Linked DNA regions of Homo sapiens: regions 2 and 3 are each linked to region 1. The links come from fine-mapping of genetic effects on gene expression. A gene starts in region 1. Each other region holds a variant in brackets. All regions are shown on one strand. Distances are from middle to middle.

Region 1 (4,145 bases):
TCAACTGGGGGCTGAGCCAGGCCTAACACCTCCCACCATTCTACCAGTCCCACCCTGTTGGGGGTTCTTAGCCGTGCTAGGCCCCCTTTGGATCCTCTCCAACACCATCTTGATGAAATTCCTCCCCCACCCCACCTCCTCATGCCCACCCCACAATCCCTGGGTGACTCCCTGGTCGAGAGGGAGGCAGGTGGTTGCTAAGCACTCACCCGCTCTCTCTCTCATAAAAATAAACTCCTTCTGGCTAGGAGACTCTGGACAAGATCCCCTCCCTTCTAGCCAACAAAAAATTAAAAAGAAATTTTAAAAAGATCTCCTCAGTGACATTTACTTGAACGTCAGCTGTGCCAAAGCGGGGGCCAATTTAGTGAAGTCCAAATGGAGCCATGCGCCAGTAAACCTCAGCCCGAAGACCCTCCATTCAAGTGTCTGGGCAATTACTGAGCTGATTTATTTCCCCAGACAGGAAACGGGGGCCCAGGCTGCCTCCCAAGCTTTTGGGGCTGGTCCTGGGGATGCCGGGATCTGGCAGAGGCCCAACAGTGACCAAAATAGCCAGGCCGGTGGCCCTACCCGGCACACACCTCCCTGCCTGGGAGAGCTGCCCACAGGTCTCCTCTCCAGTCCAGGCTGAAGTCCAGGCTGAAGCTTTGAGGCTGTAGGAGGAGGTCCCTGGAATTCTCTCTGTGTGGCTTCCCTAGTGGGAGGGGGACGAGAATCTCCTACTCAAAAGAGGAACCCACAGAAGGAAGAGAAATAGTCTGGAGGGGGAAGTGTCCTGCTGGCCCTGCCGGCTGTCCACTACCCCTTGGCTGCCCCTCCGGGCCTTGGTCCCACCACTCAGGACTGCTGGACGCTGGCGCTGCCACCTGCACACCACCTATGGAGTGCATGCACCTATGGAGCCACGCTGCCCTATCACCTCTCCCCACTCAGCGCCGGCCCTGGAGAACCAGCTCTGGCCATTGGACCCTCTAGGCACCAGGGACACCCTCTTGGGTACAGCCGAGGACACACGAGTGCCCACAACCAGGGACCTGGAGACACAACCACACTCAGGGACACGCACGTGCACCTAGCCAGGGCCTGGAAGACGCAGCCCCCCACACACAGATTCATGCAGACACAAACGGGGACACACAAGAGCACACATCCAAAGACAGCACACTCAGGTATCACACACAGAGAGGCACACACACACAGCCCAGCACGCAGAGAATAACAGACATGCACCGGAACACACATGTGCACGCTGCTGGGGACACGGTGAAACAGTCACCCTCAGAAACACAGACACAGGGATACGGAGGCACATGTAGGCATCCTGACGGAGACAGGCACACAGATATGCCACACACACACACACACACACACACACACACACACACACACACACACTCTCCTGCCGCCCGCACCAAGAGCCGGAGCCCTTTTGCCGGGGAAACAATAACAGCCCCGCCAGCGGGACTGAGCAGGCGACTCTCGGTCCCTTCCGCGGTGGTGAAAGGGGCGCCGGATGGGCGCACGCGGAGGGGAGGAGGCCGGGACTGCGGCGACGCGGGGATGGGGAGGGGCTGCAGACGGCGGGCAGCGCCGGCTGCGCGCCCAGCTCCCGGTCCCTCCGGTACCTGGGGTGGCTGCGGCGCCGCCCGCGCTCTGCTCGGCTGTGCCGGGTTCCGCCGGCCGGGGGCTGCCTGCCCGCTCGCTCTCTGACCCGCTGGGTGAACGCTCCGCACTCCCTCTTGGCGCAGCTTGTCCTCTGGGCTTGCGGTCCTCGGGGCTCGGCGTTGGCGGCGGCGCGAAGGAAGCGGTAATTTATAAGCGGCTTCTTCCTGACCTCGCGTGTCTGTTGTCTGAGCAGGCAGCTCTCAGCATCACCCATCCTGCTGGGTGGAAAAATACCAGCTCGGCCGGGCCGGGGGCGGGGCCGGGGCGGGGCCGGGGCTTCCAGCCCCGCCCCAAGTGCGGACACACGCGCGCACACATACACATGCACACACATACACGCAAACACGCACGCGCGCATGGGCTCGGACACACAAAGAACCCGGGCTCGCCGAGCGCGCGCGCACACCCTCATGCCGCGCGGCGAACGTTCGTTGCCAGGTGCGGCAGCCCGCCCTGGGCGCCTCCTGCCTGCGGAAGAAGAGCAGGACAGACCCGACCCGACCCGCCTAGTCCTTTCCTTCACAGCAGCCTCCAAACTCCACCGCTCGCCTCTTCCGCCAGGCTCCTAGGATGAGGCCCAGGGCTCCTGGAGCAGCCAGGTGCAAACCAGACCGGGCTCGCACTCCACTGCGTTGCCCTGGGCGATCGTCCACGTTCTGGGAGACTCGGTATGCCCCGGGAGGGTGGCCTGAGCTTGTGGTGTGAAGCCAGGTACAGAGCTCCAGAATCCTGGCCTTGCCATGGCTGTGTGACCCTGGGCAAGTGACTCAATTTCTCTGCCTCAGTGTCCTCATCTATAAAATGGAAAGGAAAATAGTAGCGCTTGTCTCCTCCGGCTGTTATGAAGATCCAAGGTTAACAGCGTAGAGAACTCGGAACGCACCCGGCATCTAGGAAGTGCCAAGCCAGTGTCAGCTAATGTGACTATTTTTAAATGGAGATGGGGAGTGTGCCATTATTCTTGTCCTTATTTGAATGAACGGGCCCTCAGGGACCATTTTCCACTGCCCCGCCCTGGCAGCATGAGAGGGAAACGCTGTGAGAACCCCGAACCCCAGCCTTCTCCTGTCCCTCTCTCTCTCTCTCTCTCTCTGCACCTGGGAGGCGGGGAGGAGAGAGCCGATCCTTCCACCATTTACACGGAGAATGAAAGAAGAAATACCGGCCAGGCGCGGTGGCTCATGCCTGTAATCCCAGCACTTTGGGAGGCCGAGGGGGCAGATCACCTGAGGTCAGGAGTTCGAGACCAGCCTGGCCAACATGGCGAAACTCCGTCTCTACTAAAAGTACAAAAATTAGCCTGGCGTGGTGCCGGGTGCCTATAATCCCAGCTACTCAGGAGGCTGAGGCAGGAGAATCCCTTGAACCCGGGAGGCGGAGGTTGCAGTGAGCCGAGATCACGCCACTGCACTCCAGCCTGGGTGACAAGAATGAGTCTCAAAAAAACAAAAAAGAAGAAGAAGAAGAAATACCACACAGGTCCGACCAAGAGCTGCCCCCACTCAGGCCAGGATCCCTGCCTGGAAGGGCTCTGCAGCCACTCTCCCTGTACAGCCCCAGGATGCTAAGGAGCATCCCGAAGTGACACTGGCTCTCCCTGGAGGCCCCTGCCATCGGACTCCAACCTGACCTTCCAGTGGGTGCTCCTCATACTGGCTCCAGCCAAGACAGACGAGGACCACTGGGCACATGCCCTTCCTTGCCTTCCTGTCACCCTTCCCACCCTTCTCTGCGGGCCCCGGGTGGCCCCTTCCTCCAGGAAGCACCTGGGGATCAGCAGTGCCTCTAGGGTCCCAGTGGCCCACGTGACATCTGCTTCTGGCCACCTGAGCACTCTCCTTTGAGTTCAGGGTCACTGTACCCTTTTATAGGTGAGCAAACGAAAGCTGAGGAAGAGGAGTGACTGGGTCTCCCACATCCCTCTGCTTCAGCTATGAGGTTCCCTCATGAACTGCAGGAATAGACGTCAAGCAAAAACTCCTCAGACGCCCTGTGCATGTGTGGTCGCACAGGGCACAAAGACTGAAGCAAAGGGGCAGGTCCTAGCGTGGGGAGGGGACTCCAGGATTGAAGTTTGAACCAAAAGGAGGCTTTGACTAAGCCACGAGCAGTGAAGCCGGCAGGAGAGGAAGCAAGTTCTAGCAGAGGTGCCTGCCGTGCGAAGGCCTGAGAGCAAGGTTGTTGGTGGCAGGGCTGAGCTTGAGGGTCTGAGAGAGTGAGCAAGGGCAGTGGCTGTGGGAGGAGGGAAGAGTTGTGTGTTCAGAGCTGCAACTTGGAAAGGCCCATGGGATCCTTTGACCTCCAGGTAGGCCAGCGGAGCCTCATGCAGGTAGTGCCAGCGCAAGACACACGAGTGAACCATCTATCCAGTTACCAGCTCCATGAGGGATGGGATCTGTTCTTTTGCCTCCATCAACTCCTGGAGTCTATCATAGGCCTGACACACAGTAGGTACTCAATAAGTGTTTGCTGCATTT
Region 2 (4,145 bases), 22 kb before region 1:
CTTGACCGAGGTTGCACAGCCAGGAAGTGGTGGACTGGAGTCTGGATCGGTAACCACTGCGCTCTGGGGCACCGCCTGGCTGTGACCTTAGATACCAGGAAGTCTCTCCCCCTCAACCTGACACAGGGGGAAACTGAAACCAGCAGGAGGCAGGGGAATTATTTTTCAAATTAACTCAAGGATTAGAATCCAGGTCTCTTGAATCAGCCCAGATCAAAAGTATTTTCACGGACCGGGTGGCAGCTGGCCTCAATCATAAGAGCAGCAGCTAACAGCCCTGGCTGCGCGAGGCCCAGTGCTCAATGCTTGCAAGGCATCTTCCCATTTAATTATACTCATAATTGGTGAGAGTCATGCATACCTGCCGTGATTACTAACTACTGACCCCGCAGGCTAGGGAAGAAATGTTTAGCCATTTAAATTCAGACTGGCCAGAGAAATTAAGTGGCTGATATCCAGGGGTGTGACCAATCTCAATGAAACTGATGAGGGGAAGGACCATGGGTAGTCTCCCAACCCACACCATTTTTGGAAACGCAATTGTTGCCTTCCACCCTCCCTGCCCCGAGTCCCCCACCCACCCCTCACCTCCTTAGAGCTTCCTTTCACTCCTGCAAAGTGTGTCACCCACTGCAGCCCCGGGTGTAATCAGCTTATTCTCCCATGTACAGCCTGGGCCATCTGAAAACGGTTCCCTTTACTCCTTGGGGGCAAGGATACCTGAGATTTAGGCCACAACTATATATAGCCAAGAAATCCGTCCTTTTTAATTGACTCATCTATTTATTTGGTCAAGCAGTTCCTGCTGACCCCCAGATGGCCGAGTTCTACATAATTCCTCCCGACAATGTGTGTGGAGAGGAGGGGCCCTCCCTGCCTCTGCTGCTTGGGCTCTGTATTCCCAGTGCAGGCAGCTCCTGCGGGACTCTGTTTCCCAAATAAGGTTTGCCTAGTTCCACCCTTTGCCTATGCTGCATCACCTATGTTTTAGTTGGAACCTAACACTGCACCCCTTCCCAGCTGCAAGTGGTGACCTCAGGAATGTCACTTCCCCCTGGGGGGCTCAGTTGCATCATCTGTAAAATGGGTCATCGTCGTGAATTACACAAGGAAGGTACAAGGAAGTGCCTCGAATACACAATTGGATTTGCTCTCAGGAGAAACAGGATACTCTGTGCCCAAGAAAGATTAGCCATCTTTCATGGCGTGCCTTCGTTCAACCAACACTTGACCTTGACTCCGCCCCTTCTTAGCATCCAGCTAAGTGCAGAGAGAGGCAGAAACAAACACCCCTGGGCTCCAGATCTGCCACACTGGGAAAATACCAGCTGAACGGTTTCTCCAGCCGGTGTTGTGTGTCAAACAGGCGGCTTCGACCGAGCTTCCTTCAATAGCGCCGTGTCCCCGTCCCCTCCCTCCCAATGCACTTCACGGGCTCCCAAAACCACGTGAGTCAGCAAACTGGGTTAGACACCTCGTTAGAGTGGGTTTCCTCTGGAGACTTGTGGCCGTGCCTGTGATTCTCCTGCAGCGGTGTTTGGTTGAAGGCAGGGTTTGTCTGTTCAGGAGCCAGTTGTCAAAACAACAAGCACTACCTTTAAGGGGCAGTTGGAACCATGAAATAAGGATTCCTGTTTCTGGCTGGTTCCCCAGAGTGAATCAAGACCAACCACTCTGAACAGATCCGAGGCCACTGAGCCA[G/C]ACCCAACCCCACCCCCTACCCCAGGCAGCTCCTCTCCCCTCCCCATTGCCCAGAGCAGGACACCCCAGCCACGCTGCACTCCTTAGGGCTTCTACAGGCTTCCACTCTCTACCAGGCCTTTCCACGGGCTGTTTCCCCTACTGGGAATGCCCTCACTGTCTGGTGCCCAACTGGCATATTTTTGATATTCAAGACCTCAGGGAGCTTTTTTTTTTTTTTAACTTTGCGTGCCCAAAGCACCTTCAAGAGGCCCTCCCCATCCCTGACAGGGTCCTGATTTGTAGCATCTTCCCACACAAGCTCCCAGGCTGGACAGAGGGCAGCTCATTTCAGGGTCCCTAGCCCCAGCTGGGGCCTGAACCACAGCAAAAGTCCATAACTTTTGGATGACTGATCAGACTTTCAATTCTCAATGTTTATATGCTTAGAGATTTTTCCCCAAACTTCCCCTAACGTCAAACACTCTTGCTGGGGCCTTTCCAGTACTAGGCAGAGCTGGCAGGGGTTTGAAAAGGTGACTTTCTCAAATGGACTAGAAAGGCCAAAGGAAAACAAAAGGTCTTGACTCCATGACCTTAAGCTGGGACGACCCTTCTCCCCAGAATCATCCTGCAGGTCCAGAACCCAGCCATGAGACTTCCAGACTCGGCCACACAGGGATCGCTTGGCCCACAGAAGGCCACACTCCCTGATTTTGTCTCCTTTAGGGTGAGAGACTTCACTGAATGTCTGGATTGTTAAATGTGAATAAATCACCCCTGAATTATGACCAATATTAATTAATAAGACACATTTGGTATTTTCAAAATACCAAGATGCTTTCTCCTACATGCACTTGCTAACCCAGTAGTTATCATAGGGCCCATTTTACAGATGGGGCAACTGAGGCCCAGGCAGAAGATGGACTTGCCCAAAGAAGTAGCACCAAATACTATTCTCTTGACAGCACCAAAACAGGAAGGTGGTTCTGAGAGGAGCAGAGGCCTGAGGTCTCAAGGTGCTGTGTGACCTTGAGCAGGTCACTGTACTTCTCTGAGCCTCAGGAGGCTTATTATGAGGAAAGTGGATGAAAAGGTGGAGGCAGACAGGCTCATGAGCCCACAGTCACAAACAGCTTCCTTCTACCCACCTGAGACAAGGTCCAGCCTCCTGGCTCTTTACCAACTGCACTGTGCCTGGTGTATAGTGGTTGCTCAATATTTACTAAGTGAATGAATGTTGTCTCACAACATTCATGTGTGAGTGTCTCACACTCATCCCAGGTGTGAGATCACACCGAGGCATGAGAAGGCCTGGCACAGCAGGGCTCCCTCCCCTGGACACACTGTCTGTCCTTCCAGAGGCACTTCGTCCCCTTCTTCCTATCCAGAAGACACCTCTTGCCTGCTGGCTGTAGAGTCCTTTTGAAGTCCTCTGGGTTCCTCTACAGTTTTTCCAAAGCAAATGCCCATTACTAAGGGTGTCATGTGGACAACACACATGCCACCTCTTCCCACCTTGCCCCCTTGACAGACACTGCTAATCAATCCTGGCTTCCTTCTCATTGATGTGGACCCAGTCTTGGATTCCTCATCAGAATCTGGTCTCTCTGGGTCCCCAGTAACTTAAGGGACAAGAGACAGACCCTTGTCTGGGAACCCTTGTCCAGGACTGGCAGGATGCCCAGAAGAGACTTGAGGGGCTGTGAGACTAGCAGAAGCTCTCAGGAAAACTCAACCCAGAAAATATAAATGAGAACCTAGCCCCCTCCTTGTGACAGAGGTAGCAAAGGAGGTAGGAGGCGTGAGTCCTTTGCAACACAATGGCCCAGGTGGGACCCCACAGAGCAAGAGGAGTGAGGGTAGGGATTTGGAGGTGGGAGCCAAGCTGGGGCTAGGAATTGAAAGGCTGAAGAGCAGGGATGCAACTCTACCTCTGGCTGGGAGGAGGGTGGGGGTGAGAAGCAATGACAGGAAGCCAAGGTGGCCTGCATGCAGGCCCCCAGAAGGTGAGCCACTAAGCGGCCAAGCTGGGGTGGGGCCTGGACACCGGCCCTATGCTGCACGTGCTCTGTGCCTGACTTAGTGGAGGACGCTCAGCTCAGAGGAGAGATCCGCACCAGGGCATCGGCTCCTAAATCGAAGGGGTGGAGACTCACCCAAGCTCGGCACTGCCACCCCAAGAACCTACCCTGGGAATAAATGATTTATTCTATTCACTCTTTTTTCCATGGCGAATCAGAGGTCACACAGAGGGTTAGTGACTTGTCCCAGCTCTGCCAGCAAGTGTGTGGAGACATGAGTAGATAAAGGCACCCTGAGGGTCCCTGCGGGCATTTGGGTCTGAATACTGACCCCAGGACACCTTCCTTCATGGGTGCCTGAGGAGCCAGCCCTCCAAAACCCCCGAGGCTGTCTGCAGCCCCAGGGATCCTGGCGGTGCTTGCTTTTTAAGTCCAGGAGGT
Region 3 (4,145 bases), 85 kb before region 1:
ACCTCACCAGAACACAACCCACACATGTTGGATGTTAAAAAGGAAATGTTTATTTTCATGTTATAAGGTGATTACAAACTCCTCTAAAAAAAGCAAAGATGAATTTAAAATATTGATATACATATTTATCTAAAAAGCAAAAGAGAAAAAAACCCCTGCAAAATACAGGGAATCATATCATAAAACATTTATACACAAAAGCTTGTATACTGCAAGACTGAACTACACACCAAGGATCTTGTTCAAATACAAATGTTCCTCCTCAGAAAAGTCTCTTGTTGGTTGATTTTTTTTTTATAAAAGTTTAAAATATCTTAAAAATATTTTGAAGTTTTAAAAAAATGTCCTGATGAGCCAGACATATTTCTGGAAGGAGGCAAGACCCACATTCTCAGCTTTCTCTTGTGCTAAATACAGAGTCACAGTTGCTAGGGATTGGGAGATTAATTGGGTAAAAAAAAAAAATGAAGCCAACATCTCAATTTGAAGTCAAATATATAACAGGATGCTCCATCCCTCGGAGAACACGCCAGAACATGTCTGTAGTGACACCCACAAGAGAACAATGCAAAAATGCTTCCTATTACAACAATATATATTCTGAGGATCAGGGAGAGAAGGAAAGGGGGAGGGCTGCCCCCTGCTTTCTGGACTGCCCACCTCTACAAGTTTGGCTCTCTGGGTTTGTTTTGTTTAGTCTTGTGGTTTTGTACTTCGATTTTTGCACACAGTGGTATTTACCGTGTCCCAGGCAGCCTGGCCTGGGACCACATGGGTCTGAGGGAGGGATGGGACCTCAGGCCACCTTGAAGGATTTTCTCTTGGGTCCTTTCCTGGCTTGTGTCTGAATCTTGGGTGGGGTGGGCTGCGGGGAGCAGTTAGGTGCCTCTGCCTTTAGACTGGCTACCCAGAGCATTTCCCCAGGGAGAGGGGCTGTGCTGGGAGATGCTGGCTGGGTGGGGGACCAGTGTGGCGGTACCCGGGTGATACAAGAGTGCCCTGAAGTGGGCTGGAGGGGCCATGCTGTGCTCTCCCCTTGTGTTTCCCCACTGTCTTTGGGGGTATGCTGGGGATCCAGGGGGCAGTGAAGGAGCTGCACATGGCCCAGGGGTTATGCTGTCCTGGAAGGAGAGCATCCAAGGCCACTTCCTGCTGCCTGGAAACTCCCCGCAGAGCCTCGGGGTCAGTCTGGAGCCAGGGCGACTTCATCTAAATCCTGCCTAAGGATCTGGCACACCTCTGGCTTCTCTGCACCTCAGTTCCCTCTTTCACAAACAGGGATCTCAATTCCTAGCTCACCAAGGGCTGCTGGGAGGAAGGAGGGCCCCGTGCAGGGCTGGGGTGTGCAGGTGAGGCTGGAGTCACCCAGCTCACGGAGCCACCGCATGGGTCCAGGAATTCTGTGAGGATGGTGGGAGTGTGGCTGCTGCTGCTCCCCTCATCCCTGAACATGGAGGGGAGCGCATTTCCTTTTCCATAAAGGCTTGTCTTTGGTTGTCAGGAAGACCTTGAGGATGTTGCTGGATGTAGCCCTGGTTAGACACTCACCATTCCCTGCACCTACCTCGGAGAACCTGCAGCTAGAGCTGTTTCAAGAAAATCCATTCCTGGCTCACAGTGCCTCCCTGAGCCTCAGTTACCTCATTTACAACAAGGGCGTTGGGTTAGGGGACCCTGGAGGCCCTTCTCTCCCTGACCGTCAGGAAATCTCTGTGGCCCTAGCATGGCCCATCTCAACGCAGTGTCTCCCACTTCTTCATCTTAAAAAATTGATTTAAACAACCCCCTCGCTTCCTTTCCAGATCTGGCTGGCTGGGCTATGTGCGGGCATCAGCATTTCTGACCCATCCCAAGCAGAAAGCAGGTGAAGGACTTTGCCCATTCTCTATAGACAGGTGGACCAGAGTCATGAGCTCTCATGGAAAGTTTCGTTTATACGGAGACATGAAGGTTGAGCATTATTACACAGGTACTCGCAGAGCTATGCTCTGCACACAGAGCCAGGGCTGGCTGGGCGAGAGGGCTCTGATTGGAGACAGGTGCCTTGGGGAGAGTTGAGGAACGACTTCCTTCCAGGCGGGGCCTGGGGACTTGGTCTGC[C/A]TGTGTCTTTGGTCTAGAATTTGGTCTGAGAATCTTATAAGAAGAGGCCTTCCTCAGGCCATGTCCAGAATGTTGCAATTTGCCTACCAACCCAAAATACTGTGGCCTTTCACCCAGGGAGCCCCCGCTGGGGAGATGGAAACTGAAATGACCACAAATGCCCAGGTAGCCACTGCGTGCCAAGTCCCCTCTTCCCCACGTGCCACCTGCCCTCAATCATTGACAGTGGTTAGTTTACTAAAGTTATATAAGACAAAGGAAAACAGGTCACAATGCTACTCCATAAAATCAGGGAAAAAACAGTAAAATCAAATCAGACACAAACGGCAACCATAAATACATAGAAAAACAGGAACAAGATAGAATCGTTGAGAGTTTGGAATAGGACTGGGTGTTGTTTGGCAGAGTAGATAGCTTTGGAAACAGTGAAATATGTATGCCTGCCAAAGATGGGGTTCAGAATTGCCCCTTGGGAGGGGGACACCAAAGGCATACTCCTCCTCCCAAATTTAAGAAGGGGGTTTCCAGGGTTCCAAGAGCCCCTGCTGTGAAAATTCTGCGGTCTGCACCCCTCGAGGCAGTGACTGCCTTTGTGCGTGGTCACGTTTCGGTTTCATTTAGACTGAGCTTGGAAGTGACTGTTCAAATGGCACAGTTTAGGTCCAAATAGGGGCTGGGTGGGGGTGTGTCTGCCCTGGGGATTTGAAAGGTATAGTACCTTCTCTCCTGGTTCAGAGACAACCTCTGCTCCACATAAGGCCCTTGATCAAGCCAGTTCTGAGGGGCCAGGACCCTGACAATCCCAACCTTCTAGAAAACTCTCCTAGGCCTTCTCTTTTGGGTCCGCAGGTGGTAAATGTCTGTAAACCCAGCTATTGCAGGGGTTTTGAAGTGAAGAGCTTTGTTATATCCTAGGTCAGCACCACGGGCTGCCCTTGTTCTGAACTGGGAGCACTTCCCCCAGTGGAGGATACAGACTCAAAAGCTGTTCTTGGTGTGCCTTGCTAGGTGCCAGGGCAGCCCAGGGTGGCATCTTTAATGAGGGCTTGGCAGGAGTCTCCCAGGCTGAGAGTGGGGAGTGGGGAGATGAGGAAAGAAAGCACCCCTCCCCGACACCGGGCCCATCTGCATGCCTGGGGCCTATATCCTTTGGTCCACTCACCTCCCCACCACTCCCCTAGTCCCTCAACAGGTATGTCATGCTTCATTCCTGCAGGCAACTTTAAGAGATGCTGAGATGTTGCTTGGGGAATGACCAGAACCTGCTATGACCCCATTCAAATGCAACAGACTCATCTGAGCCCTGAGACCCCAGCTCCTGCCGGGAGAGCCTCTGCTCCTTCTCTGCCTGGAATGCCCCAGGAAGGACTGTGGCCTCCTGTGCCTCTGCCACCTCTTGCGAGGCTGAGTTGTGAGCCTCACTCCTGCCAGCCTTCTTGGATCTCTAGCAGCTCCCTCTCTGGCCAGTGGTTCTGACGGTCTACTGACTATCCACTCACCATCTCAAAATTAAAAGTGGGATTTTGCTTCTGGTACAAGTTTCTACTGCTCTTAGAATCAGACTTCTGCTATAGGGCCTCCTCATTCAGCTTCAGCCAGTCTCCTTTATGTGAAGGGTTGGTTCATTCCTTTGGCATCTCTCTTCTTCACTAAGCCAAGTTTAATGAGGTATCTCCTCACAGCCCTCCTTTCTTCCCCCTGGGTCTGCCAGCTAATGGGTCCTCTCTCCTGCTATTTCTTCCATCTGAACCAGGATTTGGAAGGTATACCACCTTAAGATGGGTGTAGAGTCCCAGGAAAATTCCATCCTGCGTTTACTGGACAGAACTTTCTGCCAGCTACACAGCACCGAAGAATTGCTTTTGAAAATGAGATCTATTGCTGGCAAGAAGATCAATTCAAGTGGTAAAAGTATATGACAATCTCTAAGTGTATATATACTTATATGTAAAAAAAAAAATACAAAGAAAAATTTACCAAATTCCCATAAAATACATCTAATTCAGTATGAAAGCTCTGCCTCTCCACGGACATCTTCCCGTGGG

The links. PIP is the estimated chance that this variant, and not a neighbour inherited with it, causes the effect.
Region 2: its variant is the best candidate, but not a certain one, in a credible set for the expression of SLC6A6 in whole blood (INTERVAL, PIP 0.83).
Region 3: its variant is the best candidate, but not a certain one, in a credible set for the expression of SLC6A6 in whole blood (INTERVAL, PIP 0.56).

What each region holds. Positions count from the first base shown.
Region 1 is chr3:14,400,331-14,404,475 of GRCh38, reverse strand. SLC6A6 (solute carrier family 6 member 6) reads right to left here and starts at 1,870. Exons shown (of 15, transcript NM_003043.6): 1 at 1,629-1,870. LOC105376959 (a long non-coding RNA gene) reads left to right here and starts at 2,069. Exons shown (of 8, transcript XR_007095825.1): 1 at 2,069-3,815. RefSeq lists enhancers at 687-766, 837-896, 2,217-2,386, 2,397-2,446 and a silencer at 1,547-2,076.
Region 2 is chr3:14,422,133-14,426,277 of GRCh38, reverse strand. The region is part of intron 2 of SLC6A6 (solute carrier family 6 member 6); the gene reads right to left. Among named protein-coding and RNA genes, the nearest start is that of SLC6A6, 22 kb to the right of the region's middle. RefSeq lists enhancers at 3,254-4,076, 4,077-4,145. The variant G/C (reference allele first, on the strand shown) is at 1,702.
Region 3 is chr3:14,485,232-14,489,376 of GRCh38, reverse strand. SLC6A6 (solute carrier family 6 member 6) reads right to left here. Exons shown (of 15, transcript NM_003043.6): 15 at 28-4,145. GRIP2 (glutamate receptor interacting protein 2) reads left to right here. Exons shown (of 24, transcript NM_001080423.4): 24 at 1-270. Among named protein-coding and RNA genes, the nearest start is that of GRIP2, 53 kb to the left of the region's middle. The variant C/A (reference allele first, on the strand shown) is at 2,101.